4 separate regions of the Homo sapiens genome follow, and all the other regions are linked to region 1. The links come from fine-mapping of genetic effects on gene expression. A gene starts in region 1. Each other region holds a variant in brackets. All regions are shown on one strand. Distances are from middle to middle. Region 1 holds the start of CTXN2-AS1 (CTXN2 antisense RNA 1). Region 2 has its middle 24 kb from the start of DUT-AS1. Region 3 overlaps DUT-AS1 (DUT antisense RNA 1). Region 4 overlaps SLC12A1 (solute carrier family 12 member 1).

The links. PIP is the estimated chance that this variant, and not a neighbour inherited with it, causes the effect.
Region 2: its variant is fine-mapped to the expression of CTXN2-AS1 in whole blood (INTERVAL, PIP above 0.99).
Region 3: its variant is fine-mapped to the expression of CTXN2-AS1 in whole blood (TOPMed, PIP above 0.99).
Region 4: its variant is fine-mapped to the expression of CTXN2-AS1 in whole blood (INTERVAL, PIP above 0.99).

Annotation. Positions count from the first base shown.
Region 1 is chr15:48,188,527-48,196,695 of GRCh38, reverse strand. It overlaps CTXN2-AS1 (CTXN2 antisense RNA 1), which reads left to right and starts at 4,987. Exons shown (of 3, transcript NR_184082.1): 1 at 4,987-5,111; 2 at 5,635-5,763; 3 at 7,187-8,169. It overlaps CTXN2 (cortexin 2), which reads right to left and starts at 5,031. Exons shown (of 2, transcript NM_001145668.2): 1 at 4,843-5,031. RefSeq lists an enhancer at 4,524-5,027.
Region 2 is chr15:48,351,490-48,359,658 of GRCh38, reverse strand. No RefSeq gene overlaps it. Among named protein-coding and RNA genes, the nearest start is that of DUT-AS1, 24 kb to the right of the region's middle. The variant G/AG (reference allele first, on the strand shown) is at 3,770.
Region 3 is chr15:48,309,163-48,317,331 of GRCh38, reverse strand. It overlaps DUT-AS1 (DUT antisense RNA 1), which reads left to right. Exons shown (of 3, transcript NR_186809.1): 2 at 2,369-2,437; 3 at 4,591-6,864. It overlaps LOC124903486 (a long non-coding RNA gene), which reads left to right. Exons shown (of 2, transcript XR_007064625.1): 2 at 1-608. Among named protein-coding and RNA genes, the nearest start is that of DUT, 18 kb to the left of the region's middle. The variant T/A (reference allele first, on the strand shown) is at 4,321.
Region 4 is chr15:48,261,817-48,269,985 of GRCh38, reverse strand. SLC12A1 (solute carrier family 12 member 1) reads right to left here. Exons shown (of 27, transcript NM_000338.3): 18 at 2,285-2,425; 19 at 222-328. Among named protein-coding and RNA genes, the nearest start is that of SLC12A1, 60 kb to the right of the region's middle. RefSeq lists a silencer at 3,648-3,848. The variant G/AG (reference allele first, on the strand shown) is at 3,541.

The sequences.
Region 1 (8,169 bases):
TGCCAATTCACTTCCTTTTCAAAAGTTTGCTACTAATATGATGAATCAGAGAAATAGCATGGACATGGTTTAGTTATTTTGGCAATGCATTTAACAGTCTCCCATGATATCTTTGTGGGGAAGATATGAGATATGCCTGGATAATAGTGTTTTTATGTAGATTCATAGATCTGAACTACCCTAATAAATATCGGGTTCTATAATCATGGACGTGGGTCTCCAGTGTGGTATTACAAAGGTTTCACTTTAATCTACGCATGTTTTCAGTGTTTTTGAACAGTGACTAAGTTGAAGATATTGAAGTGAAGCTTATTAAATTTGACAAAGTGTGGCTGAAATATGATAGCACATGGAAAAAACACTCAAGACAATTCTGATGCCTAGAATTCTGGGTTGAAGCTAGAACATAAAATTTAATAGAAACACTTCTAAAGCCCTTTGTTTAAGTGGGAGGGAAGGAGATGCACCAAATCCAAACAGGGGAGATAATGACTTGGCAATTCATGTAAAATAAATCTGTAAGCTGCAATTAGTCAAGTTAGCCTGAGCCAAAGATATGAGGTGGTGGCTTATAAAAGCAAATGTCTTAAATTGAATAGGGGTGCAAATGATAGAAAGTAATAACATTATTATAATGTGTCAGGCCACATATAAAGTAACACTGCATATATTCACTATACTTTCATTGAAACATATTTATTGGGTTGCTAGTATGCTCTAGTAGACATGCACTCCTCTACTTAAAGGGATTCCAACTAGTAAGGGAGAAGAGCCATGTACACACAAGGAAAGAAACAACAACATAGGCTTCTACAAAAGCAATAAAAAAGGAAGAGGAAGCCAACTTGTATTTAAAATCTACTGTGTATCAAATACTGCTTTACATATTTTATTTTATTCCCACAACACCCACATAGTGTTGATACTATCTTCAACATCTTGGTGAAAAAAAAGAAGATCCAAAAAGGATAAACAAGTTTAGATGAAATCAAGATATCACCCATTGAGGGATCAGGAAAGTTTTTCTTGCAAGAGATTGTATTTGAACTGAGTCTTGAGAGACAGAATGATTCAAATCTGTGAAGAAGAAAAAAGCATGACAATAAATATGAAGGCAGAAAAATACTGGATTTTTTCAGAGCACAGTGAGCAATTTGGTACAGGCAAGGGGGAGTATGGGAAACAAAGCGTTGGAAAGGTAGGTTGGAGCCAAATTGTGAAATATGTTGACTGTCAGGCTAAGAGTTTGAAATCTATTTGCTTAAAGGCTGAGTGGCTTGATGATGAGACTGAAATAGACATAATTTTGAGGGAGAGAGCATCACGGGAAAGAAATGGTTCAGGTGAGAAGCAATGAGGGTCTCCACTAGGGAGTAGATGTATGAAAGAGGGTAGAGGTTGGAAAGATATTTAGAAAAGTAGGAGGGATAGGATTTGGAAAGTAGTGGGCCCAAGGAGAGAGAGGCATCAAAGATGACTCTACACTATTAAGCTCGGACAAGTGTAAATATAGTGTTTTTATTAATCAAAACAAAGAAAATAAGAGCAAAGCATAGACTTAAAAAGTAAATGACAAGTTTATTTCTGGACTTGGTGAATTTGTGGTACTCATGTGTGGCACTTAGTAGGCACTCAATTGTCAGCTTTCAATAAATTTATCCAGATCATTTTGTCTAGCATAAAATTTTTGATGGGGAGAATATTTTAAGGTATTGTTGTCAAATAACGTTTGTGTAGAAGACTTTATACAGGATGGAGAGAGCCCAGTACATAGAAATATTTGCAGATCAAAACTTAAAGAGAAGAAAAGAATTGTTGAGTTTTGCCTAGGAAAGGGAAGACCAAGAAGGACAATAGGTAGACTCAAATATTTGAAATATTATCTTGTAGGAAGCCAGATGGACTTGTTCTAGATTGATCCAGAGAGCAATTTTACTGTAATTCCATTAAAGTCTATTTTCTGTTACCAGAAAAGATTAAAGATGGAAGAAGCCTAGCAAGGAACTCCAAGGAATGCCTCTCCTACAAGGAGGATCTCCTAGTGGAGTTATATAAGATGAATCATGAGTAAATCTGTAGCAGAAAGTTCACCTATAATAAAGGAGGCTAGGGCTTCTAGAATGAGGCATTAGCAAACAGTGTCAAATTCTGCAGCGGTGATGGAAACTAAGCACTGGAAAACAGGGTCTTATGGTTGGCATTCAGAATTATTTCATCATTATAAAAATTTAGTTGAGAGTCTAGGAGGGACACTAAATTGAATTGGATTTAGGAGTGAGGGGTAATGAGAAAATGGAGTCAGGTGGTAAATAAACTTGACAGAAAATAAGTTTTACTTAGTCGGTACAGAAGGTTAAATCATATGATGAATCACTTTCAATAATGAAGACATGACTGCATATTCAGTTTTTAAAGGAAGAGCTCCATAAATTTACCTGGATTCAAAGAACTGTAAAATTTCCATTTTTAACAAAAAAAAAATGGGTTGAGAAAGAACAAATGTTTTATTAATATCTTAAAAGAGAAAACAGGCTTTTATATTTATCATAAAATATACTTTATACTAAAGATGAAAACAAAATACAGGTCAAGGAGAGCAACTGAAAAAGTAATATTCAAAGGCTGATTAAAAATTTGTCCATTGCTGCAGGCTGTGCCTACACAAGCAAATAGAAGTAAAAAGTTAAGCAATTGCCTAACAATGTGTTCAGCAAATAGATGGTTTTAGTAATTTAAACCATATATATAGCAGTTGAAATATCAGTATTTCAGGCCTAAATTTTTCAAACAATTGGCCAAACTTTCCATTTTACTTGCTCTGTGAAATGAAGAACTTGTCTCATTTCAACAACAAATCCAAAGTTTTTGAGGATATACTGTTAAGTGTGCCAAGTCCTGCTTTTCTACTGATATAGAGCATAATATGATATGAAAATATTGTTAATAACAAAATATTATTAAAAACAAAAGTCCCCAGTTATAAAACTGATTCATTCACAATTACTAAGGTGTTCAAAATACTCAACAGTTATAGATAAAATATGCATTTTCACTTTCTCTAAAAGCTGGAAGAGCTATTCACAACAGACACTGTAATGCCTAGCTCCAGAGAAGCATCATTTTAATATCCTGTTTATTGGGAAATAGAAAAAAAAAGAAATCTGAGAAAATTTAGATTAAGTTACAAAACCATATATTAAAAAATCCATATAAAAATAGTTAAGAAAAAATGAACTTTCAAAAATAAGTAGAATGTAAAATTGGGTAGTGGTAAAAGTTATTTGAAATATATTATACCACAAAATTGGGTAAAATAAACAATGCACAGTTTAAATATCAGGATCAATATATATAATGATTAAAATATTTAAGTGTCTTTTAATACTACTGATGCAAATGATAAAATATTGTCTTGAGCCATATTCACTGGAATAAATGGTTAGGTACTTTGGCAATGAGTAACTTGGTTGAAAGTACATTTCCTTCATGGCAATTGTCAGGCACCAAGATTTCTAAGTACTGATGAGTCATAAGATTGGGCCAGGGGTGTTCCTGTAGATATCAAATAGCCCAAATCTCATGAAGTTGCTTTGTAATTGGCAACTAGTAAGTAAAAAACAAAGTCTTCCTATGATCAGTACTTACAAATCATATCTCCGTAAGCAGTTAAGCAAAGATGATAGTATTTTTATACCTGATATGCAGCCTTTCATATTCATGAATATTGTTAGTGATGTTTATGTCTTCTGTGAAATAACCTTACTAGAGATATAAAAATATACCTTTCAGATAAAATCATTTAATCATGCAACAATGCACAATTACAGAAACTAATGTTAAAAAGTGTGTACCCATTAAAGAAAGAACCTCCTGTGTTTTATTTTAATCAACAGGTTTTTCCTCTTGTTTATTTCTCTAGTAATGGTATTCCAAACAATAAACCTGAAATAATAACTATTAGAGTGGAATATGATGTTCTAGGTAGAAAGTATTTTAGCACTGGTCATTAGATATAATAATCTCTACTGCTAATGATGACATTCATAATTTCATGAAATAAGACATATAAGAAAACCCAAGCTTAAAAAATAATGAACCATTCCATACATATACACACTCCACACAAAATATAAAGATTATATCCCAGTAAAAGAGAGAAAAGAAGCATTATTGAAACCACATCTGCACAGAGGTAGTTAATCATTAAGAATCGAATGTGTTGGAATAAAAGGAAAACCTTAAATTACAAACCTAGATGTCTTCATCATGGTGAAATGCATAAATTTCAGGGCTTTCCAGAGATCCCAGACCTTAGGATCTGCCAGAATCCACCCCTAAACCCTCAGATTTCAACCTTAAGAGAATTTCTCTCTTAAGAGAATCTTTGGATGGCTCAAGGACTCTGACACTCAATCCTTCCAACGCACTGGGAAACCTGGTCTGAAAATTCTCCAGATATCTCATTAAAGAAACCTAGACCATCATCATCATTCTGCGTTGTTTGTTTCCAGGTCTCTTTCTACGCACTAAACCGAAGAAGCATGGAAACTTCCTACAAAACATTATGGGAGAAGCATCAGCAATCTGCACGTACACAACACTTTTCCCCCGCCTGGCAGCCGCATCAGCAGTGGCGCTAGCATTAGGGGTGCTGTTTCTCCTTTAGAATTTGAACTTATCAGACCTACTGGCTCCTCCACCCACCGCCCCACCCCCCGCTCTTTTGCTTCAGAAATACAAGAGAATGAGGACATGCTTCTCATCTGGACCTGCATTTGGAACGCTGTCAGTTAATGCGGAGGGAAGGGGGAGAAAGTTACTTCGCAGACAGCGATGTCTCACCTTCCATGCTTGTTGCCATGGAGATGAAGTCCAGCCAGTAGACTTAAGTGTTGGCACGTTTGTCTGTGTTCGCTGATCGGTTCAGTAACAAATGTAGAAGGCGTGTTCTGGAACCTGCGTAGAGTCACAGGGCCCTGGTTAGCGCTTTCCTGGCCTAGAAGTGTAAATGTCTGTGTCTGTTGGTGAGACAGAGGACGTGGGCGCCCGCCGAAGTACGTGTGCGCGCGCGCGTTTGCAGGAAAACGTGCATGGATTTCTTCGGTGTGGCAGTGTGTAAATATTTGCGCTCGCGTGTGTCTGTGGCAGCATCTGTGTGTGTATGTGAGACTGAAAGGAGGTGGGAGATGAGGAGGGGAAGGGAATCAGCTCCAGCAGCAACAGGCTCTATTCTTCAGTTCTGCTAAAAGAAAGAGGAAGAGAGGAAGAAAAAAATAGACACTCCTTTTTTTTCTCACGACACACCCTGAAGGTTAGCAATTAGATTTCATCATTATCTTTGTTTACTAAGGCAGTGAGGGTTTAATTGATTTACTGCTGAAATCCTTGTTTTGCTCTCTTTGCTGCATTCCTGGCTGTGCTGCGGGCATTTTGCTGTGCTTTGGTGACAGCCGTTTTCAGTAGAACAGTAGGCACTAAATTCTTACACGTTTCTTCTTATCCGGTAAGGAAAATTCAGGAGTGAAAGGTGTATTGATTTAACTGGAGACTGAATGTGTCGTTTGGAGTTCTTTTCCTCTACTCTTTCCCTTCTCTCTTCCACACAAACACAACTGAATCCCCTTCCGTTTCTAGGAGAAGGCGCCTAGGCGCTGTCCGTAGTGCTGAAATGGTGCGTGGTGAGACCTGTCTCCCCAACACAAGCTAGAAGACAACAAAATAGCAGCCAGGAAACGCTCTGATAAAGCTCTAGATAGCTGCCAGGTACGTTTTCTAAACAGTGTTGAATATGTAGATTCTAAACCTAACCGACGTTGAAAGCAAGGTAAAGCAAAGCAAAGCAAAGGAAAACAAAAAAACAACAACAGAAACCTTGCTCTTTATCCTTATTTTAGGGGTCTGGCCGTTTCAACAAACTCAGTTACAGGGTTCCCAATTCTATTTATGTTTTGCGACTCTATCCAGAACCTACAAGTTGCAAGCACTTTTAGATTCCCTACAATCTTAATTATTCACCTTATAACTACTGGACTGTGAGTCGTTGGGGGAAATGTAGATACAGAATTGGGACACTCATCTAAAGAAAATACTTTGAAAACGTAATGTAACTGCAACTAGATTCAATAACAAAGTGAAGACAAACTTCATGATTATTTAGAGTATTTACTGATTTAGGAAATGTAATGGTCTTACAAAAAAATGGGCAATGTATAACTGAGAGTTCATATAAGACCACATTTTTTAAAAGTTGTTTTTTGATTTTAAACTATTAAGATGTCCTAAAATGTAGGTGAACTAACTGCCCTCTATGAAAGACTGAAAGACATATCTTATTCTAGGGACATTTCCATGGCCATGGTTTTATTGACCCTTTTTAAACTTGCCAAGGGCCACATTCTTTATTAGCACTCTGGGCTGGAACAGTGCTTCTTGAAGTATAACATGCATATGAATCTTCAACGATCTTGCTAAAATGCAGACTCTGATTCAGTAGGTGTGGGGTTGGGTCTCAGATTGTGCTTTTCTGACAATTTCCTAGGTGATGCCAGAGATTACTAGTTTTGGGACCAATTAAAGTAGCAAGATGCAGCCAGGAGTGGTGGCTTATGCCTGTAATCCCAGCACTTTGGGAGGCCGAGGTAGGAGGATCACCTGAGGTGAGGAGTTTGAGACCAGCCTGACCAACATGGCGAAACCCTGTCTCTACTAAAAATACAAAAATTAGCTGGGTGTGGTGGTGGGTGCCTGTAATCCCAGCTACTCAGGAGACTGAGGCAGGAGAATCACTTGAACTCAGGAGGCGGACATTGCAGTGAGCTGAGATTGTGCCACTGCACTCCAGCCTGGGTGACAGAGCGAGACATTGTCTCAAAATAAATAAATAAATAAAAATAAAGTAGCAAGATGCTAGAGATATTGAATTCTGGCAATGCAGTCAGTCATAGATTGTGGGAAAGGAGATCATTTTATTCCATCTATTATTCTATGTATGTTTCCAAACTGTTACAAAAATAATTTATTCAAAATTAGTTCAGAGACTAATCATGTAAACATTTTGTCTGTACAGTATGAACAATTTTTTATGAATTTGATTCCTTTGATTTTGATTTTGACATTGTCTGGACCAGTGGTATAGTTGAGTCTGTATTTCCATACTATGATCTATAACCATTCATTCTCTTTGCAGGCCGAGCTCAAGGGAGCAGAACTAAGTTACATGATTCTGCTGCGGATGTATAAGCACCACTCCAATAATTTATTATCACGGTTGGAGACTTTGACTTGTCACTTTATGACTTGAAATATGGCTCCATGGTAAATGCCCATAAAGCTGATTTTTAAAATCTGGATATTACAGTTCTAATTCTCACTTAGTTTAAAAGGTAGAATAGGCTTCTTGTTTCATAGATCATTTGTGTGAATGTTGATTTGTTATGTCATTGACATCATACACACATGCTTACATTTTGAAGGTTGCTAGCGTTTCCCATTAATGCTTCTGAATTGATGCCAAAGGAAAGCATTGATTATAAATTAGGTTCCTTGGTATTAGTTGGTGCATGACCCTGACCCTTTTCAAGCTATATGAAAGGTAATGATGCTCTCAAAAGCCTGCAAAATGGCTTATTCAGGAAAGCATAATGGATTAAAAATCCATTAGGTTCCACTTTCTTTGCTAGATGCTGAGATACAAAGATAAATGAGATTTGGTCTCTGCCCTCGAGGAGATACGTGGCAAAATAATATGGTAAGTTCTACAAAGTTCTATACAAACACAGATTAATATGCTATTCATGTTTTATTAGCCATTGCCAAAGAAGGGATGAAGAACTGCAAAAAGATAAAACACAGAATACTTGTACTTCAGGTCCTTGCCAATATCTACTGCCCAACTTTTACAAAAAAAATTGCTGAAAGGCATGAAATATATGAATGCCTTTCTAAAGCACATGTGGATAATCTATACTTCTGGAGCATCTATGATTTATTTTCAGAACAATCCAAGTTATTAGAAAGGTAAATATGTTGGTGACATTGTTTAGAAGTTCCTCAAGCAGAATTGCCTTTACTATGCTTTGACATTATGCTCTCAGCTTATATACAGTAATTCTATGTGAAACAGTAGCCAGCTTACACAACCTGCTCTATATCTACTACAGAGCTGTTACT
Region 2 (8,169 bases), 160 kb before region 1:
GATAAGAGAAAAATGCTAGCAAATGGCTAGCTACCTTAAAAAAAGGAGGTGCATTTGATTGAGACTTTTGATTTTGATGGTTCTTATCTTATAGAATCCATTTCAGAACTAAATAGACCTAGGTATATAAGGATGAGGCAACAAAGATATTTCTTCCATTCTGTGACTTGGAATAGCCATACTCCACTCACATACAATGTGTTTTGGTTTGAAAATATGTTTTCAAAAATATGAATTACTAGACAGAACATGATAAAAGCTCTGTGTCTTCATATAGCTAGGCCAGTTTGAGAAATTATGTAAGTTTAGTAGCAGCAAAATGTTCACCAAGTATTCATTGGTTTAATATTTTTAGTAGCTTATTAAAAAAAGCTATTTCTATTTGTTTATTTGTGATGTTTGGGAAATAAACATGCTGATAATTCTTTCGTAAGATACTTTTTAAGATTGAGACCCCATGAGGTACCGAAAAAAGCATTCACTTCTCTCACACTTGAGGTCACAAATTTTTGCAAGTCAAAAATGTTGGCCATGCCAAAAACATCATGCTGCACACTACCAAATAAAAGAACACTGTTATTCTTACAAGGAAAGGTTTGACAAGACAGGAAATAGGCAGGGTCAGAGAGGTTTACTTAATACGGAGACTCATTTAACCATCATGAAGCCAAAATACAATGACAGTTAAAAAAAATAAACAAATAGCTGTTACACAAAACAAAACCCCAGGATACATGGTCTCTACTGGAACTGATTATTAGAGTTTTAGCAAATACAGGAAGTGGATAACCCCAGAGAACCCTCACAACATTTCTAGACGTCTTCTCCATTTACTTTTGTCACATGCGCTTTACTGAGATAATGAAGATTAAAACAGTTTTGATTTGTGGGTAGAAATTTGAACAAAGAAGGATTGATCTTAAAATGCTGCAAGTAACCTCATTAAAGGGCAATCATTTTAAAAGTCACATTCTCCTAAAAATGGGGAAGGAGGAGGAAGAAAAAAATGAAAGATAGGAAAAATCTAGCTGTTCATTACAATTTTCCATTTTTGTTTAAACACAGCAGGAGGGCAAAGCTGCTGGCTTCTCTGGTCCTTACAAATGCCAGGAGAGATTATACAAACCCTGCAACCACCCAAATCTTATTTAAAGTTAAAATCATTGTTCTCATCTAATGACTTTTGCCTGCTTTCACTCAAATATTGCAGCATTTTGTTTTCTGCCAGCTTGGACCCATTGAGAATTGTAGACTTATAATTGCAGATAAACTATGAAAAAACAAAAACAAAACAAAAAAACTACCTTTTACAAAAAAGCAAACATCAAGTGACATCTAGTGGTTGCTAGATACTATTTCCTAAGGCCTCTAGATAGCAGTATTTTCAACAACATATTGTCTTAATGTTGGTTATAATTTTTGTTTCCCACATACAGCCTCGGTCTTTTTTTAAGACAGAAACGCATCTGATAAAGATAGTAAAGTTGCCATTTTCTTTTCTCAAAGAAAAATTCTTTTTCTATTAGAATATAAATAAGGAAATAGCTATAACTCATGCTATCTGCATGCAAAAAAAGTTCGCAGTCTATCCCATATTAAACTTATTTGGGCAATTATCAACTGTCTAGATGCATCTTAAGAGAAGATGACATTTCAAATCCCAAATTCCTCTGTTTATCTATCATCTTTTGTTTTGTTTTGCTTTTTGAGACGGAGTTTTGCTCTTGTTGCCCAGGCTGGAGTGCAATAGCGCAATCTCAGCTTATTGCAACCTCCGCCTCCCTGGTTCAAGTGATTCTCCTGCCTCAGCTTCCCAAGTAGCTGGAATTACAGGCGCCCGCCACCATGCCTGGCTAATTTTTTTGTATTTTTAGCAGAGATGTGGTTTCACCATGTTAGCCAGGCTGGTCTTGAACTCTTGATCTCAGGTGATCCACCTGCCTCGGCCTCCCAAAGTGCTGGGATTATAGGCGTGAGCCACTGCGCCTGGCCTATCTATAATCTTAAAGGCATTATTAACTTGATAAAATTAAATTTAGTTCAATTGTTGTCCATATTTTTCTTTCCCCCACCTTGAGAACGCTACAGGGTAATTTTGCAAGAATCTAGGTCCACTTTTTACAATTTTTGCTAGTTACACCACAAGTTGTTAAAGAATAGTAACTTAAACAAGGCTACGTAGACATCAGCTGCAAACCTAATTGGGATTGGAATTGCTTAACAACGCTCCTTCAGTGATTTCATGTTTCTGAAAGGCGCCGTAGAAAATAAATGCCTTGCATTGATGTCTTGAAACTGCATTTGTGAAAGAGACAGAAAAGGAAATTATTGACTGAGAAATTGAAAGATGGTGTTTAAATTTAGTATTTTCTTTCCTTGCAAGGAAAGGAAACTTGGAAAATGCAACTGTAACCCAAAGGCCAGCTGTCTGGCTGTCCCCAAGTCTTCCAGTCTTCCAGAGTCACTCTTCATTTTAATAACAGCACACACACACACACACACACACACACACACACAGACACACACACTACTATATAAAACTCCCATCTGACTTCTATGGAAGAACTAGCATCCCTTCACCTCCAATCTTTTCAAGGATTCTCAGGAGCTCTGCTTATTCTTAATCTCGGCTGCGCATCAGGCTTCTCACTACTTTTTCTTCACCCATTTTGGCCCAGATGCAAACTCTTTTGCTTTTAGTCCCCCTCTAAAGTCCCACTGACACTAAAGGAGTGGATTTGACTGAAGTTTGGGTAATAAGAGGGGAGCTACCGTACAGATAGCTCGGAAAACAGATTAAAATGTAATCTGTGAAGTGATACAATGTCTGGGATTTGTTTCAAAATAATTCACTGGGGGTTGGGAGTGGGCAAGTAGGTAGGGATACGGAAGAAACAAAATCAGCTATGAGAGGATCATTGTTAAAGCTGAGTGATGATTACACGGGGTTCATTATACTTCTCATTCTGCTTTTGTATATGCTAGAAATTTCCATAATATAAATTTAGAAGAAGTGTCTTGGCACTCCTTGATGCAGGAAATTTCTCACTGGTCCTTTCTCTGATTAGCCTCCTACCATATTTTGGCGTTCCTGCCCCCTGCTAACCACCCCTGCCACCAACTCCTGAGTCCCTCACATCTCTCTGCCTCTCCTTCTCAGCCTGCCCAAACAAGCCCTTGAGCTCTGAGATCCTACTCTAACATTTGAGTAGCCCATCAGAATGGCTTGCTGACTCCCTAAAAATAAAGAGACCAGTTTTCACCCTAAGAGTAAATTCTGCCCCTAGGTTTACAATACCTCATTCAGGTAAAAGGAACACAACTAGAATAGCACCTGGTGTATATAGCACTTAAAAAATGTTAGCTCTCTTCCTTTTATTATTTGTATTCTAATTTAAGTTATGAAAATCAATTCTAAAATTTGGACACAGATAATTATATTAGAACAAAGCAGTTTAAAAGATGATACTCTGGCTGGGCGCGGTGGCTCACGCCTGTAATCCCAGCACTTGGGAGGCCGAGGCGGGTGGATCACTTGAGGCCAGGGATTTGAGACCAGTCTCGCCAACATGGTGAAACCCCGCCTCTACTAAAAATACAAAAATTAGCCAGGCATGGTGGCGGACACCTGTAATCTCAACTACTCAGGAGGCTGAGGCAGGAGAATCTCTTGAACCCAGGAAGCAGAAGTTGCAGTGAACCGAAATCGTGCCACTGCACTCCAGCCTGGGCAACAGAGCAAGACTCTGTCTCAAAAAAAAAAAAAAAA[G/AG]GTGATACTCTATGCCTACGAAGTAAAATGTGGCAGGCAGATGATTATTTTGCCTTCTAAACAAGAGATGTTCAATATAGACACAAATAAAACTATCTTTAAGTAATAATATTAATACGTATTTTCTCTCCCAACCACACTACAGTAGCCAAAAGGCTAAGCAGTTCTCACAGCCCCTGCTCATCAGAGGTGACCTAGAAGGCTGAGGAATCTGAACTCCCAGATGAGCTGTACTGGGGGAGAGGGCGGTGCAGGGGGTGGAACCTAGCGTGAGTACCCAGCCTCTCTTCTACCTTCGTCAGCATCAACTGGCAACAGCTCCTTTCACTTCACTTTGTCTACTTTGGCCTAGAAAACACAGGCTTTGCTTAGTGCAGCTCTGAAGTCAGCTGAGGTTAATGTTCAAACCCCACAGAAGGTGTGCGTCTGAAGAAAGGAAGTGAAGTTTCGTAAGGGAAAGGATTTTTTGTTTCAAAATATGTGTGGGGAAATAATAAGAGAATTCATCTGGATAATTATGTTAACAATACAAGGTAGAAACTGCATGTTGTCCATATTTCACATTCCCAGGAGGGAGAACAGAGATTCAGAGATTTGGGGTGCGATAAAGTAGCCGTGGCTTTTGCAGCCTCATGCCAAACACATCTGAGCAAGGGACACAGAAAAGTGGATGTGTTACCGCTGGCCTGTGCCATTGTCCCCAAACACACATGAGACAATGTCAGCACTTACTTCTAGCTCTAAATTGAAAAAACACTTCCTCTCTTTCTGCGAGCACCATTTTCCCTCCCACTCACCCCTGGAGTCTGACACAGTTTCCATTCCAAGGAGACCGGGTAATGATTCCAAGGAGAAAGGGTAACATACTTCAGCAAAAGAGCTGGCGGACAGTGTGAGACGGGCGCAGGGATCAGTTTAGGCTGAAATGAATTAGGAAACATTTTTAACTTGCCCTTTGAAGTTTTTATTGCCTTATCATCAAACGACTTCTCTTCTTGGGCTGTATATTGATTTTTCTGACTATGAAAAAGTGTTTCATCTCTTCTATGATAATCAAACAGTCTCAGTCAACAGCACCTTCTTTTTTCTAAACCATATTATTTCACTATTACACAATTATCCTACACTCCTCATCTGACAGGAACCTCATACAGCATTAGTCTTTTTCTAATATTATTTTCCCTAACATCCTCATTCCAAACATTTCCATTTCAAACATGTAGCTGCAGGGCATTATATCATTATTTGCCTTTGCTCTCATCGAAGTATATTTTATGAGAGCTTCCTGTCATTTATCCTGATCTATGCTACTATTTGTCAAAGCATCACCTCTGCTTCTCTGTCTGCTTCTCTAAGATGCCAGAAAAAAAAAAAATTTCTTCTCAACTAAAAGTTAAGCCATTATAAATCCCACAGGGATTTTAAAATGGGCACACTTGGGATTTTATTTTATTCTAAGTAGAATGTTCTTTCTGATACTCAAAGTGAATGACCTTGTAGAAAAGTATTTTGTCGTATTTCCTCTCTAGCCCATGGCACATTAGAAAATAGTCACAAAGAGTTACTATCCTATGTATTGAACAATGTGTGATTCGAAGGCCAAACTCATATTTGGTTCAGACCTCAGTAGAAATTTGGGCTAATGCCTTTCATGGATGGGGAAAGGGTTTTAGACCCAGGCCAGGAACCCTGGAGTTTAGTCCTACAACTGCTATGGCTGGTTGGTGTCCTGACACCAAATACTTCTTAGTTTCCCTTTGTCTCAGGTAGTTCATTTGTAAAGATTCACTCACAATTGCAGTTCTGCAGTTTTTCAGTGTCATTCCTACCCATCTTTCTTTCTTTCTTTCTTTTTTGAGACGGAGTCTCACTCTGTCGCCAGGGTGGAGTGCAGTGGCGTGATCTTGGCTCACTGCAAGCTCCGACTCCCTGGTTCAAGCGATTCTCCTGCCTCAGCCTCCTAAGTAGCTGGGATTACAGGCATGCGCCACCACGCTCAGCTAATTTTTATATTTTTAGTAGAGACGGGGTTTCGCCATGTTGGCCAGGATGGTCTCGATCTCCTGACCTTGTGATCCACCCGCCTCTGCCTCCCAAAGTGCTGGGATTACAGGCGTGAGTCACTGCACCTGGCTTCCATCTTTCTTTCTTTTCTTTTCTTTTTTTTCTTTTTTTTTTTTTTTTTTGAGACAGAGTCTCACTTTGTTGCCCAGGCTGGAGTGCAGTGGCATGATTATGCCGCATTGTAAAACAGCCTCGTTGCCTGGGGTAATTACCAAAGGTCTGCATCCTCAACTTCCTGGGCTTAAGTGATCTTCCCATCTCTCAGCCTCCCGAGTAGCTGGGACTACAAGTGTGAGCCATCATGCCTGGCTAATTTTTTTAGAGACTAGGTTTCGCTATGTTGCTTAGGCTGGTCTTGAACTCCTGGGCACAAGCAATTTGCCCACCTCAGTCTCCCGAGGTGCTTTGATTACAGATGTGAGCCACCACGCTCGGTCTCCACCCACCTTTCTTTTGCCATCCTCTGTGCTCATTACCTGGCTTCTTAACCTCATTGTCAGACATTTGATTAATATCAGTATTGCTGAAGCTCAGCTCTAGTGATATTATTCTTAGTCCAAAACTCTTCTGTGACTGGCCATTGCCTCCTTGACGTTTAGGACCCTCTAGAGCAGATCTGCAACCTACCATTCCAGAAGAGTTACCAACAATTCCCTACATGTCCTTTATACTCCAGTCCATTGGAACTTTGGTTTTGCCATTTCTTGAATATACCTCATGCCCTCTTTGTATTTTCATGCACATCATATATGTCACACTACCTATATTTGCACAGATGCCTATATTTGTCTTATTTCCCCTGCTACAGATGGTAACCTTCCTAAGGATAACTACTACCATTTATTGACTAAATACTTTTGCCATGGACTGTGTAAGATACTTTACACCTATCATCTCTAGGTCTTCTAATAATGTAAGGTGGATATTATTAACTTTATTTTTCAGATGGAAAGGCAGACTCAAGAGGTTAGATGATGTCCTTAAGGTCACACAGCTAGCATGTCACAGCTTATGTCTTGGTTGTTTCACCTACATCATCTAGAAAAACACTAAATTGGATAAACAATAATGCTGACACTTGCCTGGCACATAGATGCTAGGCAAACACAAGTATGCATGAATGATGGTGATTCTATCCCTTAAATACAGCTAGCTCACCTTAGATAACTGCCACCAGGTGGCAGTAATTTGCCACGGCTGTACAGTCTGGTCTTATTCAAGATTCGTAAAACGGGAGAGGGGGAGAAGACTACCGAGATTATCCGACCGACTCTCTTTATTTTATGATAAAAATTGAGGATCTGGAAGTTTACTTTATTTATTGAAGATATTTTAGTTAGTAAAAGAACAGAGCTTAAACTCAGATGTAAAACTCCCAAAGTTACTATTTTTTTCATTAGATCAGGCTCATTTTTTACTTCAAAATTTGTAATTTATAATGTTCCCATATATTTTCAATATTAAAAGTATTTGTTAAAGCAGTAAATGCAATACAAATTTAACAAAAGTATTTTATAATAAAATTTTAATCGTTTCTTAGTCAAGTAATATAGTTTTCATGTTTAAAAAATGTTAAAATAGGCTGGGCGCAGTGGCTCATGCCTGTAATTAATCCCAGCACTTTGGGAGGCTGAGATGGGCAGACCATGAGGTCAGGAGTTCAAGACCAGCCTGGCCAACATGATGAAACCCTGTCTCTCTAAAAATACAAAAAAAATTAGCTGGGCATAGTGGCGCACACCTATAATCCCAGCTACTCAGGAGGCTGAGGCAGGAGAATTGCTTGAACCCAAGAGGCAGAGGTTGCAGTGAGCCGAGATCGCACCATTGCACTCCAGCTCTGGGCGACAGAGCAAGACTCCGTATCAGAAAAAAAAAAAAAAAAAAAAAAAGTTAAAATATAGATCATGCAAAAAGGAAAAAATTACCTACAATTCCAACAGCCAAAGATATCATCATTTTGATATATATTCTCCTAGAAGTTTCTTTACTCATAGGTAAACCCATTTTGAAAACATATGATCAAACCTAGACATAATTTGGTAATTTGGTAATCTTTTTTTTTTTTGAGACGGAGTCTCACTGTCGCCCAGGCTGGAGTGCCAGTGGCACGATCTCGGCTCACTGCAAGCTCCGCTTCCCGGGTTCACGCCATTCTCCTGCCTCAGTCTCCCGAGTAGCTGGGACTACAGGTGCCCACTACCACACTGGCTAATTTTTTGTATCTTTAGTAGAGACAGGGTTTCACCGTGTTAGCCAGGACGGTCTCAATCTCCTGACCTCGTGATCTGCCTGCCTTGGCCTCCCAAAGTGCTGGGATTGCAGGCGTGAGACAC
Region 3 (8,169 bases), 120 kb before region 1:
AAAGACAAAAACTGAATAAGTAAGGAGATTGATTTTATTTTGGCTATTGCAATAGGGAAAACACCCCAGATTTGAAGATTAGAGTATGTATTTATTTTCTATTACTGCTGTAAAAAATTTTCACAAAATTAGTGACTTAAAACAATAGAAATTGATTCCCTTACAGTTCTGGAGGCTAGAATTCCAAAATGAGTCTTCCGTGCCAAAAATCAAGGTGTCTCTGGTGCCACATTGCCTCTGGAGAGATGCAGATTCTCTAAGGGAGAATCTGTTTTCTTGCTTTTTCCCATGTCTAGAGCTGCATTCCTTGGCTCATGGCCCCTTTATCTTCAAAACCGGCAGTGTAGCATCTTCTGTCTGACCCTGCTTCCATCACATGATTTTCTGCTTATAGTCAAATGTCCCTCAGCTTCCCCCTTACAAAGATACTTGTGCTTATGCATGTGGTGCTTAATACCTAGGTGATGGGTGGATAGGTGCAGTAAACCATCATGGCATGTGTTTACTTATGTAACAAACCTGCACATCCTGTACATGTATCCCAGAATTTAAAATAAAATAAAGTAAAATAAAATTTAAATTTAAAAAAATACTTGTGCTTTTATTTAGGACTTAGCCAGATAATCCAGGATGATTGCCTCATCTCAAGATCCTTAATCACATTTGCAAAAGCCCTTTTTCCATGTAAGGTAAAATTCACAGATTTCAGGGATTAGGACCTGGATATCTTCAGGGGCCGTGTTCAGCCTACTACAGTGTATCTAGCAGGATAGTTTTGTTTTAGATTTTTTCTGTTTGTTTGTTTTTTTGAGACAGAGTCTTACTCTGCCACTCAGGCTGGAGTGCAGTGGTGTGATCTCAGCTCACTGTAACCTCTGCCTCCTGGGTTCAAGCAATTCTCCTGCCTCAGCCCCCTGAGTAGCTAGGATTATAGGCACCCGCCACCATGCCCGGCTTATTTTTTTGTATTTTTAGTAGAGGCTGGGTTTCACCATGTTGGCCAGGATGGTCTCAAACCCCTGACCTCAAGTGATCTGCCCACCTTGGCCTCCCAAAGTGCTGGGATTACAGGTGTGAGTCCCCACACCTGGCCTTGTCTTAGATTTTTATAGGGAAGAGTAGACAAGTTATAGGTGGAGTAAATTTAAAGTTGGGATTGTTTATTTCTGTGTCTAGTTAGTTTCATGAGGACAAAACTTATCTCAGCTAATCATCCATGAGACAAAGAATAAAGTTAGAAGGTGTCTGTCTGACCTTATGTGCAGGCTCAGTTTAAAGGGGAAAAGTCTGGGTTTGACCTTGTCACAGGTAAACAAAGGAATCATCTACAGTCTTGTAGGAATCATGAGAAAGAGTTGGCAGTGTCTTGTCTAAGTCATATAGGGAATGGTGGTTGATTTCAGTTAGCCATTTCTAGAACACAGAAAGCTGGGGAGACTTCTTAACGATTGCTGTGTTCCAGGAGCACAGGGCTCCGGTAAAGTTCAACACTGTCAGCACCTTCTTATCCTTATGTGTTTTTCATAGACATCCTCACTGAGTACCCTAATAAAGTATTACTATTTCCATTATTCTCTGTCACACTGATACAGAACAGCTGGGCTCCTGGCTAAACCCCCTCCCCACCCCACCCTTAAGCCTGGAACCACAGCCCTAAGTGAAAATAGCTGACCCTGTTTTTCCACCCAAATGTTACTTTTTTGGCCTGCCACGCCCCTATCCTGTTGACATAAAAAGACTTCAACTGGCAGAGCAACACAAGCAGCGGAGCGGTGGGGGTACAAGCTGCTGAGCATCAAGACTATGGATAGATGTGGCTAACTTCAGACAGTGTGGCTTCAGGGAAAGATCACCTTCTTCCCACACCCATCCCCTTTCCAATTCCTTATCCTGCTGAGAGCCACTTATATCACCCAGTAAAATCCTCCGCATACACCAACCACCCTTCTATTCGTTCTTGTGGCCTGATTCTTCCTGGATGCCCGGGTACGGAGAGGGCAGGGGCTTGGATGCTGCTATAGGGCCTGCACAGAGCGTGCTCCTGCCAGAGAGGAGTAATGGGCCAGTTCCAGTGTTGTCTCCGGTTGCTGCACTCGCTTGCTCGCAGGCTCTCTTTTGGGAGGAGTGGCCGACAGTGGGCTGAGTGAAAGGAGCCTCTCCAGTTCCCGCCCACAAAGGGCATCAAGGTCAACAGAGTTATCCTGTCTCAACACTTTCTCTTTATTTCCTTCACAGTATTTTTCACAATTTGTAATTATTATGTGTAACTTGTTTTCTTGTCTGTCTAAACCTTTAACTTTTTGAGGGCAGGGAATGTGGATGCCAATATCTTAAGAGCTCAGAACAGTGTATCTTTGTGTCTTTACAGCCTGACACATTTTTGTTGAATCAATTGACAAAAGAACTGACACCAGATGGCCAATCAACTCAAGAGAAAGTGAGTATAGTAGTGAACTAAATAAGGATAAAAATAACAGTGATTGAAAAAAGAGGCTGGGCGAGGTGGCTCACGCCTATAATCCCAGCAGTTTGGGAGGCTGAGGTGGGCAGATCACAAGGTCAGGAGATTGAGACCATCCTGACCAACATGGTGAAACCCTGTCTCTACTAAAAATTAAAAAATTAGCTTGGCGTGGTGGCGGTGCCTGTAATCCCAGCTACGCTGGAGGTTGAGGCAGGAGAATCGTTTGAACGGGAGTGCGAGGTTGCAGCGAGCCGAGATCGCACCATTGCACTCCAGCCTGGGCAACAGCGTGAGACTCCGTCTCAAAAACATAAAAAAAAGAGTGAGGCTGGGTGCGGTGGCTCATGCCTGTAATCTTAGCACTTTGGGAGGCCAAGGTGGGCAGATAATTTGAGATTAGTTCAAGACAGCCTGGCCAACATGGTGAAACTCCATCTCTGCTAAAAATACAAAAATTAGCCGGGCATAGTGGCGCATGCCTGTAATCCCAGCTACTTGAAAGGCTGATGCATGAGAATCGCTTGAACCTGAGAGGCAAAAGTTGCAGTGGGTTGAGACATGCCACTGCACTCCAGCCTGGGTGACAGAGCGAGACTCCATCTCAAAAAAAAAAAAAAAAAAAAAAAGAGAGAGAGAGAGAGTCAGAAATCCCAGGCAGCAGGATAAGCATATTCAGAGCTCTGGAGAGTACAGAGTGTGTGGTGCGTCAGGGCATAGCTGGTGTGGAAGGGCCCTGAGCAGGGCAGAATGCGGCTTCATAGTGAGTCAGAGACCAGACCCCAAAGGAGTTTCATACTTGCCATGTCCCCTCAGTGCCCTGTATTAATTCATCGTTCCAACAAATATCTGTTGAATGTGTTCCATGTGCCAGGCACTGGTCTAGACTTTGAGGATATGGCAGGGAACAGAACAGACAAAATAAGTCTGACAACAGATAGAAGATGTGATTCAAATGAGTAGTGCCGAGAGTTAAGGAGAAAAGTAAAGCAGGGAGGGAGGTATGGGATTTAGACTTCTGATTTCAGAGAGGGAAGCCAGGGAAGGCCTCAGTGAGAACATGCTATTTGCTGATTGTGGGGCTGGGGGCTGGGGGTTGTTTTACCTAACTTGAAGGAAGTGATATCTTGGGGAAGGGCATTCCAGGCAGAGGACACAGCAGGCACTAAGGTCCCAGGGTGCAAACTCACCTGTAAGAAGGCCAGTGTGGTCTGAACAGTGACAGAGGAAGGCGTACACAGTTGTAGGTGTTGAAGTCGCAGAAATAGGTGGATGGGGTGCAGGGGTAGGGCCTTGTAAGCTCTTGTAAGGACAGTGGCTTTTCCATGGACTGAAATGGGAAGCCATTAGAAGATTTTGGTAACAGGAATGACAATCTCTAGTTTACTTGGCAGGATTGCTTGGGTTGCTATGAGGAAGAGGAGGAGTAAGGCCTGATGTGGAAAGACCTTTGAGAAGATGTTGAAATGAGGCAGAGGAGGAGCTAGGCCTGATGTGGAAAGACCCTTGAGAAGGCTCCTGCAGTGATCCAGGTGAGAAATGGTCCAGTGGCAACATGGGTCAGAGAGGCAGAAGTGGAGATGGTGACAAGTGAGTAGATTCTGGATATATTCTGAAGCCAATAGGATTTGCTGATAAATCAGATGTGCGTGTGAGAGTCAAAGATGACTCGAAGATTCATGGCAAGGATAGCATTGTCATGCATGGAGATGAAGGAAGAGTGTTAAAGAGCACCTTTGGGAAGGAAGAGTAAGAGCTCACTTTTGGACACATTAAGTCAAAAGTGCACAAATAATACTTTTTTTTAGTAGAATTCATTTTGTAAATGTATCTTTGAGCATTAGGAAATCACAGTATGG[T/A]GATCTGTTTCCAATGTGCGTGTTGTGTTAGCAGCTGGAGTTGTTTAATATTTTTTTTTGTATTTGTTTTTGTTTTTTGTTTTTTGAGACAGAGTCTTGCTCTGTCACCCAGGCTGGAGTGCAGTGGTGCAATTACAACTTACCGCAACTTCCGCCTCTAGGGCTCAAGTGATCCTTCCCACCTCAGCCTCCCAAGTAGCTGGGACTACAGGCATACACCACCACACCTGACTAATGTTTGTTATTATTATTATTATTTTTTTTTTGTAGAGACAGGGTTTCACTGTGTTGCCCAGACTGTTCTCGAACTCCTGAGCTCAAGCTATCCTCCTGCCTCGGCTTCCCAAAGTGCTGGGATTACAGATGTGAGCCACCGTGCTTGGCCTAACATCTTTAAATACCTGTTATTTCTTACTCCTCTGAACTTCTCACTTTCCCTGAGAATAATTTTACCACCTCTTTGTTGGGCAGAAGTGCAATAGGAACATCAGAAAGTGCAAGTACATAATAACAGAGAAGTCAGTCTCTTTTTCTTCATCTCTTGGGCATCGAAAAGAGCAGATGATCCAGATTTGAAAGTCTGGGAAAGCCATGCTGTGTGAGAACAGGGGCTTGCATGACAACAGAGGGTTGGGCTTGAGCCCCCAGGGTCTGCAGCAGTCTCACAGTTTAGCAGTTACTTATGCCTTTCTCTCAAAGTCAACTGCTGAGTTTTGTCCCAAACTACCCTCTGCTGCAATATGTCTCCCAGGCTGAGGAGGAAATTAGTCTTCTTATCCCAGTTGTCATTGCTTGTCACCTTCTCTGAAGCAATGACATTCATGACCTGGTTCTTGGCCTCAACCTCTGAGAAGTTCTCCTTTCTGCATTCCTCATCTTAAATTACTTAACCTGAAAATATACTGTTTAAATCTTACACTGGAGCTCCATATACTCTGCTTAACTGCAGAAAGAGTCTGTCTATGTAAATTAATTTTCCAGATAACTGAAGCTTAGCCATCTTTTGATGCCAGCCATGTGGACGAGAATTTTTCTGAGGGTGAATTGCAGTGCAGGTATCCTTGCTTTCTTAACCAGGATACATGGAACAAAATTGAGCTTTTCTGCCATTAGTCTGTCCTCTTACAAAGTAATGATGTCCTCAAGCTCTACTGGGGTGTGTAGAATCTCTTTCACGTTTTTGACCTCAGATTGCTGCAATTTTGTGCTCTATATTTCCTTTGTTAAAAGTTTTTCATGTTTTGCTGCATTATCCCTGGTGTCACTTATGGCTAGTTACTGCTCATTTAACATTTTGTTGACTGAAAAACAATGTAACTAGAATTGTGTGCAAATGTTCTGTATGGAAACATCATTTTAGTACTTGAGGATCTCTGAGGTCTTTTTCAGGTTTAATTTATTTTTATGGTTCTAGATATCCCTCCAAATGAATATGATCTATTGTGCATGCACAGAGAGTGGAACTTTTTGGGGGACACTTCATGGACCATTTTTAACTTATCTAACTCCCAGCTTGGCTCTTCATAGCTGATATATATGATCTCTAGAAATGTGAGATAGCAATATTGAAGGCAGGATTCTAAGATGGCCTGTGTAATCTCCTCCTCTTGAGTCTGGGAGGGACCTGTGAGTATGGTGGGGTGCCCCTCTAATTATTAGCTTACTTTATAAGGAAAAGATGAAAATTTTTGCAGATATAATTAAAATCCTTAATCTGTTGACTTTAAGTTTGATCTTTTTAAAAATTATTTTATTTTATTATTATTTTTTTTTGAGAGGGAATCTTGCTCCCGTTGGGCAGGCTGGAGTGCAGTAGAGCGATCTTGGCTCACTGCAACTTCTGCCTCCCGGGTTCAAGCAATTCTCTTGCCTCAGCCTCCCAAGTAGCTGGGATTACAGGCACGGGCCACCACACCCAGCTAATTTTTATATTTTTAGTAGAGATGGGATTTTACCATGTTGGCCAGGCTGATCTCTAACTCCTGACCTCAGGTGATCCACCAGCCTCTGCCTCCCAAAGTGCTAGTATTACAGGTGTGAGCCACCATGCCCGGCCTTTAAGTTCAATCATAAGGGAGATTGACTAAAGTGGGCCTGACTTAATCAGGTAAGCCCTTTAACAGAGGGTCTAGAGTTTAAAGATTTCTCCCTGGTGGCCTTAAAGACGCAAGCTGCCATGAGTTCTATAGCAGCAAGAAAATTAATACAGCTGCCAATCACTTGAGCTTGGAAGAGGATCCTGAACCTCAGAGGAGACTGTAGCCCTAGCTAAAATCTTGATTCCAGTATAGTAAGATCCTGAGCAAAGAACCCAGTTAAGATATGTCTGGCCAGCCATAGGGCTCACACCTGTAATCCCAGCACTGTGGGAGGCCGAGGCAGGAAGATTGTTTGAGGCCAGGAGTTCTAGACCAGCCTGGGCAACATAGCAAGACCTTGTCTCTACAAAAAATAAATAAAATAAAATAAAATAAAATAAAAGATATGCCTGTACTCTCGACCCATGGAAAGTGTGAAATAATAAATGGGTACTGTTTTAAACCATGAAGTTTGTGATAATTTATTATGCAGCAGTAGAAAATTAATACACATCCCACTTGGGTTTTGTGTTTAAAAGGATGAAAGAACATACTATACTCATAATGCATAGATTCACACAATTCAGTCACATTATAATAATTACCCTATCCTACTATGGATAATATCAATTCTGAGTTTTATTTGGCCCAGAAAATAAAACTCAGAACCTATTAAGATTATACTTGGCTGAGTATGGTGGCTGCTGCCTGTAATCCCAGCATTTGGGGAGGTTGAGGTGGGAGGACTGCTTAAATGCAGGAATTTGTGACCTGCCTGGGCAACAGAGTGAGACCCCATCTATAGAAAAAGGAATAATAAAACGAAAAAATAGTTCAGCATGGTGGCTTGCACCTGTAGTCCCAGCCACCTGGGAGGCTGAGGTGGGAGGATCACTTGAGCCCAGGAGTTCAGAGGCTTCAGTGAGCTATGACTGCGACACTGCACTCCAGCCTGGGCAACAGAGACTCTGTCTCCAGACAAAACAAAACAAAACAAAACACAGCACAAGATTATACTTGTCTATTCCTGAGTTCCAGAAAGTAAAATATGCAATATGAACCTACTGACCTAAATAATGTCTGCAGGGCCATAGTGGTAAATCTGATGCAATATTTCTCTATCACTTTCTCCACCCAAGAAAGAGGCATATATATATTTTAAAAGATCTCATGTTTAAAAAAAAAACAAAACTAAAAACCTAAGCTTATCAGTAGGTATGTGATGGGGTCAACTTTTTCTTTTTACAGTGACGTTTTAGTTGCTCACTTATTTTACGAATAAGCACAACACAATAATGATGGTATAATATATTTTTGAGTGTTAGAAATTTATTATATATGACCTTCACAATATATGTCAGATCAAACATGAGTTAATCATTAAATACAGTCTGGCAGACAAGTAGCTTGTTTATGGATTTAATTATTTAAATGTTAGTTTTTGAGTAGTTATTATTGTATATAGTAAAAATGAAATCTCTTACTTGTCCTTCATTCAGTTTTCTTCTCCAAAGTCAACCCTAATTGGTTTCTTATGCATTCTTCTAGAGGTACACTATGCATTTACAAATAAATATTCAAAAAATATGAATAAGTAAATGGTAACTAATGCTCACTAAATTGGATTAATTAAATTAACTGATTTCCTAGCAATAAGATATATCTGTATTCCTAGAATACCATATTCCTGATTATAGTGGAATATTGTTTGAATACATTGGTAAAATTGAGTTGCTAGTATTCTATTTTGGATTTTCCTATGTTTATTCAT
Region 4 (8,169 bases), 73 kb before region 1:
ACGGGCGTTTCTCTCACCCTGCCTCCTCTGACACTCTGATTCCCTCAAACTCTATTATTGGTGGTGTTTTTTTCACCTTGGAAAAGAAGTCAGAGTACCAGGGGAATGTACTCTTCTCAGGCAATTTAATCTGACACAACAGTGTTATGTGCAGTACAAGTTATGTACTGCCCTGCTTAGTGCTTTATAAACAAGAACACGTCTTGAAAGCCATCACTTACTGTATGATTCCCACGTAGTTCTCAATCTCTGTCAAGGGAGCTTTCCTCCAGTTTTTCTTATATCCAATCACCAGAGTGTTTGGTTTCATTCTTCCTAAGCCTGAGGCCTAAACAGAGGACATAAAAATGTGGGCAATCCTTACCGTACTGGGAAACTACCATCACAAATGAAAAATAATGTCTAAAGGAGCACTGAAGTAATGTTCTGAAGATCCTGAAGATTAGATTACATTTTAGTGCATGTCCTTCATGCCCGTACCCAAGCATAAAATGGAAAGATTAATTCTAAATCATCCCAGCTATAAATGGATTTTAGATGACAGAAATGTAGCTTTTCTAAATTAGCAGTCATTTGCATTTCTTCTGACACAGTCATTAAAATGGTTCAATAATTTAAAATCAAGTGAGGGTCAGCTTAACTGTTGGTATGCATGTTGTAACTTAGTGGTTCAAAGCTCAATTCCACCTGTTATATCCATAATGTCATTAGCAATAAAATCCATGTTTGGAAAATTCTTATGTACAAGGATCACTAAAATCTCTACTTATGTTATTTATTGAAGAGTGACTGAATTATGTTTCCAAAACCTAATTCTTTTATGTGACAGTATCATTAATAGCCATCTTCCATATCAGAAGTGTTGTTTCCCTTCATTAGATGACAGCATACAGCTTCCAGTTAATCAAATTTAATTCAACAATATTACTAAGCACCTATGAATTGCATAGTGCTATGTCTTGTCCTTTTGCCATGGTTCTCCTGTACTTCACTTTTTATGTGAAGAAATTCATATGAATGTATGCATGTTCAAATTTTCTACCATTTCTTCTGGATTCTAATAATTCTTTTTCATACTTGTGTCTTTTCTTTCCCTGCTCTTATTTTATGTCCATATTCCCATTCCTAGTTGAAAATATTATTTTAAAATCTTGTATGATAATTTTATAATAAATGACTAATAGTGACAACATATTTAACCAAAGAGCTATTGAAAACTAACTTGGTACTGAAAGAAAAATCAGCATCTTGCAATAACACCTATTTCCATGGTTTAGCAAATTAATAACAGATGAAAAGAGGCTCATTGTGGGTAATAGGTTTTGCAGAAATTGTTTCTCTGTACGTGCATCTACTTCGCAAGTGTTCTTAAGGGAAATTAGGCACAGGATTGCATCAAATACTCTTAAGCTCCAAAATATTACCAATTAAGCTTAACCAATATTTTTTCTTTCCTGCCTGCATGCGCATCTGAGTTACCTGGATGCAGTTCTGACTTCTGACACTCTGAAATACAGTAACTCTGAAAGCCAAATGCACCATTTCATATATATATAATTAGGGTTTTCAACCATATTAAACCCAAAATGCTCGGAAAGCCAAGCTCTACAATTTCTGAGGGTCTCTTGGATTGTTTTAAGGATTCTTTGTCACTCTAAATTATGACGATCAGAACTAGGAAAAGATTTTATGTACTTACTATAGCAGAGATGAAGGAAAAAGGAAAAAATAAGGGAAAAAAGATGTGAGAACTATGGGATTTAAGGTTGAGCTGTAGAGATTATTACATTTTATTCAACATTCTGGAAATAATTCAGGAGGATAGGGAGATTTTATGCCCAGATCACCATGCATTAATTTAGTTGGTCTAGCAGCTGCCCTAACACCATTTGCAAAAGAAAAAAGGAAAAGAATGCCTGACTTGAGCATTGCTATATGCAGTATGAGATATAAAAATAGTTTGAAGTTTCAATAGGATCCTGAATGTCGTCAACCACCAGAACAAATTTGCATTTCAATAAGTACGGGGGCAGAATGTATGCTGGTGGCCAAAGGCAACCTCATTTTCCGTTTCCAGTGTATCATTCATAGTTCATTGTAATAGAACTTCTCTGCTTTTGTTCTAGCTTTGCCTATACCCAGGAATTCAAAATAATCCCTTAACCATCTGCACTGATCTCTGATGCTTGGCTGCCTAACTACAGCTGTTCACTTTGGGAGCCTTATTAACATGGAGCACTAATTGTCTTTTGCCTCTGTGCTCATTCCCTCAATGCAGCCTTACCTGAAGAAGACTTCGGACACCATCCCTGAAACAGTCTGCCGCCACTGCAGCATAAAAAGCCTTGATTTTGTTCTTTATAAGCCAGGCCTGTTTTTTCGCCATGCCACTGTTCATCTCCTTAACACACAGTTTGCGCGGTCCCTGTGTGACACAATGAAATATTGGTTAGAACCCTGCTATTATATATCACATTGCTGTTGTTTTCTAAAGGACAAAAATAGCCAGCAATGCCCCATTGAGTTAAGAAATGGGAAAGAGGGAAAAACACCTCACTGAACAGGGTTCCACAGATTCAGCCTTTTGGAGATGACCTGCGGTATTCACACCATTCATTTTCTACCCAAAACATCTAGACTGATTAACATCTGCTTAATTTACTGCCTGACACTGAATGAAAGGAAGAGTTGAGGGCAACATGACACAAGGAAAATACTGAAAATGTGACTGAAGAGGCTTAGGATAAATACACAATCAACCTTTGACTCATTAGCGAGAGCCACTTTCAGGAACACGAAAGAAATCTCAGCTGGAGCCTAATTTCAAGAAATGGACAGAGCTCCATGGGAGGTAGAACATGGTGACCTGCAAATCCTGCCATGAACTGCACATCTTGTCAATTCTATTTGGCTGATGCGTTGCTTTTTCGTGTGGCAAAAATACCCTTATACCACTTTTCCCTGTGTAATGTTGCCACACTTCCATTCAAATACATTAACATTTCCTTGTCATTCAATGAATTTGGTGGGAACAAAGGTTTACGTACCTATGACCTAAGAAGAGTGGAAGAGATTAAGAGGGAAGAAGACAGGTGTTGTGATGGTTGATAAGGCATTTTATAATTTCAAGATTTAGTTCTGGAAACACATTTTTAATGAAAAATTCTATTTTTATTTCTCCTTCCTTAAATGTCCAAGCTAGTTCTTTTCTTCTCATGATGTAATTCAATCCAAAAGTTATTTCTGATTATCTGCCATATGTCTGACAGGGTACAAATCCATTTTCCCAGGAAATTCTTTTAATTTATAGAGAGATTTGTATTTTGTTGAGATGGCTTAGATTTTACATGAATCACTTGGGATCTTGATAAAATGCAGCCTTGTGGGTATTGAAGCAGGGCTCAATATTTTGCATTTCTAACAAGCTCCTGGAGGCAACAGATGCTGCTGCTCCTTAGACAGACCACACTTGGAGTCACGGTCTTAAAGGGTCTTAGATTGGAGAGAAAGGACATTGGGATGCATGAAAAAAAAAAAAAA[G/AG]CCCAGGCTTTGCGGTCAGACAAAACAGGTCTCAGATCTAAGCCTGAGGAGGTAATTCCTTATCTCTGAGCTTTTGTATCTTATCCTTAAAATGAGGATAAACTCTTGCTCGTGCAAGGTTGCTTTAAGTAGTAATAATAAAGTACCTAGTGCAATGTCATCAAAGCCCCGGATGTGATTTTACCACTGTGCTTGCAGGAACACTGAACTGTGAGTCAGAATGTTGGGTTGAGATCTGGCACTGACTGGCTGACACCCTGGGTCTGCCATTTGTCCTCTCTTGAGGTATGTTCTACATTGATAAAACTCAGGCAATTGCCTAGGTCATCACTGCCCAATATGATAGCCTGTATGTCCATGCTGCTATTGAACATTTGAAATGTGGCTGGTTCACATTGAGATATGCTGGATGCATAAACTACACACTGGATTTCAAAGTCCTACTACAAAAAAGAATGTAAAATATCTCATTAATGTTTCTGTATTGATTCTATATTGAAATTACAATATTTTGGACACACTGGGTTAATACAATATTATTAAAAATAACTTTACCTATTTCTTTTTCCTTTTTAATTGGCTACTAGAAAATTTTAAATTACATATATGGCACATAATATATTTCTATTACACAACATTCAATCTCTGGGGTCCCTTCCATTTTAATATTCTATTTAAATTGGATCAGACTCTTTATATTCTTATTTTTTCCAGCATATTTCCTAGAACCTGCCAACTTTTCAAAACAGTTTGGTTGACTTCCCATTAAAGGAAAATTTAAAAACAAGAAACTTCCATGAAGATAGAAAAGATAGAGAGATTGGCAGGGTAGTTACTAAACTAGATGACCTAGTCTAAGGAAAGATATGCCATTATGGATCAATTTAGCTCAGGTTTCCAGATTGTCAATGCATTTTGAATCACTAGTCCTTCTTTGAGCATTCTAAACTTCATCAACTGCAAAAAAAAGAAAGAATATTTTATTCAAGGAAGTTCAGTGGTTACAGCAGCCATTAGATAGAAGAATAACAAACAGGAAATACTTTGAACCATCAGTGTAGTGAGTTGTACCACAGTGACTGTGAACCCCTGGGGAGAATGGCATTTATTTAAATAAACACAGTCTAATGTATGTCTGTTAGTATTATAAAAATCCAGATTAAACATTAATTGTGACAGAGAGATTTACTTTAATGCCTAAACTTGCCATATTGAGAAGTCATAAAAATGTTTCATGCAGAATCTCTCTTTGCTAAAAACGATTATAACATCATTGTAGCACACTTATTAATGTGAAGCAAGGAAGGCTGCAATACAAATGTGGTAAGAATAAAGCAAACTAGCAAAGAGAAAAGACATACTGGAATACAATTATTCAACATTCAAATATGCCATAGTTACAAAAATGAATTTTACTACCCCATTATAATATTATAGAGATTAGCTTCAGTTGGGATCCAAAATATGAGTATATAAATTAATTCAGGATTCAAACAAAGAAGCTTTAAAAATCTTGTATATATTATAACTTTGATATTAATTGAGAAAGGGGTAAAGCATTTCTAATTATGTAGTGTGGAGAAGTTGATGTGATGTTACTTTAAATACGTGACTATCATGAAAAAGAGTTTGTAAAGGGGTTCCAACCCCATTCGGATCAAACAGAGGAATTCACCAAGTGCAGTATTCCTTCCAACTTTTTTCTTTTTTTTAACATTGAAAGTCTTATTAGTCTGTCTTTGTTTTCATGGATGCTTTGGTTGGAATTGTGGGAAAGAAAATTTTTCCCTTTCTGATTTGGTCCATATTATCTTACCATACATGCTAGTGCCCATTCATAGGTCATTTCATTCTTTCAATATTTGGTCATGTCACTATTTTATTAACATCATAACAGAGGCTCACTGATAAAAAAAATAAGATGCATCTAGAAAGAATACATTTTTTCCTTGGTGGATGTGAAATTTGAGATTAAGAGGAGGCTGAAAGATAGAAGAAGAAATGAGAATTTAGTTTTCCCTGGGTTATAAGGGCTTGAACTGCCTTCCTTATGCAGTTCAAGAGTTAAGAGGTAGGTGTCTTCTGTGAGATTTATTGAGAACTCCTCAAACAGAGAATTCAAAGAGAGCCTTAGGTTTTCTTAAGATATTTTATAATTTTTTAGAAAAAAAACGAGAAAAAGAAACAGGGTAAAAGTCTAAGAGCCGGTCAAAGTCCATCCCTTTCCTCCTTTACAGGAGAGGACAATCAGGTTTAAAGTAACATTAATGAATAAGAAAAACATGAATGAAAATAGATTTACATTTTGGTATCCGTGTGTGAAATGATGAGAAGAATACCCATAAAATTCAGATAACATTGCCTCTGGGAACAGAGAGAACCAGGGGTCTGGAGTGGTATTAAAAGGGGCTTTAACTTGATCTGTAATGGCTTATTTCATTTAAAAAGTGAGTGGAGGGCCGAGTGCAATGGCTCATACCTATAATGGACTTTGGGAGGTCGAGGAGGGCAAATCGCTTGAGCCCAGGAGTTGGAGACCAGCCTGGGCAACATGGCAAAACCCTGTCTCTACAAAAAATACAAAAATTAGCTGGGTGTGGTGGCACATGCCTGTAGTCCCGGACACTGGGAAGGCTGAGGTGGGAGGATTGCTTGAGCCTGGGAGCTCAAGGCTGCAGTGAGCTATGATTGCGCCATTGTACTCCAGCTTAAGTGACAGAGGGAGACTCTGTCTCAAATAAATAAATAAATAAATAAATAAAAATAAAGTGAGTAGAAGCTTCTATAACCAATTTTTTTTCTTTTTTTAGGCAGGGACTCACTGCATCTGGCCCAAAATGTTAACAGTCATTAATTAGGAAAAGTAGAATATAAATTAAAGGTCTCATTTAATTTTATATAGTGAGCCATATGAAACTGCCAGTATCAAACGATTTTGATCTATAAAAATGCAAATTTTATATGATTCAACCTAATTAATTTTTTTAGTGTTTCAAAATTTAAAAACAGAATCAATCTTTTTAAAAAATTCTTATTTCTTCAGCCACCAGCACAACATAATGTACTTGATAAAAGATGCCACTGTAAACCTGAAAGCCTTTTGCAAGGTAAGACAAGCAAAATTGAGAAAAGAGGTAAGTGGCGTGTTTTTGGACAATAATGACTTTATCTGATTTGTGTTCCAAATCCCAGGTCAATGGAATCGACTTTCAATTCAATTAACTTTTGATCCTTAAATGTATATCTGTTTATTCATTTTAATAAAAAAATTCCTATTTTTAAATGTAAAATTGAGAAGTATATGAATAAGGAACTGCTGCAGTATGATGCCTTTGCACCTGGGAAAGGTAAGTGTCAACTGATCCCATAAGACTTCTAGAACTGAACATAGTGTGCCCAGAGAATTACAGGTACATAAATTCAAATTAAGTTATCTGGGATGATTGGTTTGGATATCTCTGCATCTACTATGAATGACATAAGTGAGGAAACTCATTGACAAAGGCAGTGCTTATATGTGTCAGGATACATAGGGTAAAACTGGTGGAGGATGCAACTTGCAACTTTTAACTAATAACTTACCTTTTGCTGAACCTGTTGAACTTGGCTATGCTTAGAAATATGAGGGGGATGCTACAAGGTGGAGTTTTCCTCCCTCTGTCTTCCTATGGTGATAAAAATGATAGGTACAAAAGAACAAATGACCCACATATTTAATATAAAGCCTATTGGGATAGAAATATGTCATTTATTTATTTTGTTAGTTCAAAAGAGAAGAATAGACAGTATTTTTTAAATTACTGAGCTGGATTCTTTAGAATGGGTCCCCAAATTTACCCTGATGAAGAGTTGCTCACTTGAAATCTTTAAGCTGAATAGTAAAAAAGCAAGAGAGAGGAAGAGGCCTGCGGAGAGTGTTAAGAGTTAGCTGGATAGTTGGAAGGCCACAGCGGGTGCTTGGGGCCCAGCAAAGAGTACAGCTCTCTTAATTTCAAATAATGATTATTTGAAATTAATTTCAAATCAAATAATGATTTACCATGCTGCAGTTGCAGGAAATGACAGCTGTGGCCACACATTTTCCCTCTACCCACCCACATCAAAATGCCAATGAGTTCTACGTCTTGCTCCTTTCTGGTAATGTAACAGCACTTAAAGCAAGTACTTCAATAGCTGCAGGCCACCAGAAGGATGGAGCCCAGAGCCTGCTGTCTTGTGATTAGTGGGTGGAAGCACATATCTCACTGTTACATCATGATCAAACTGCTGCACACTTAAAAAGTTCAAAATCCAGTGTCTGGACCTCATTTTTCTAAGAAGGCATGCTTTAGGTTTTTATTGAAGGTAATATATTTCTGGAATAAAAATGGCAACTATAGCATACCAAAAATAATGATATTGACAATAACAATATCACAATAACAATGAAAGTTAATTGAGCATTTACTCTTTGAGGGACACCATACTCAGCATTAGAAAGCTTATCTTCTATAATTCAAATAGCAACTCTATAACATAGGTGCTATTTTCATTATTTTCATTTTACAACTGAGAAAATTAAGGCACAGAGAGATGAAATTATGTGCCTAAGGGACTCACGGCTAATAGGTGGCAAAATAATGATTTGAA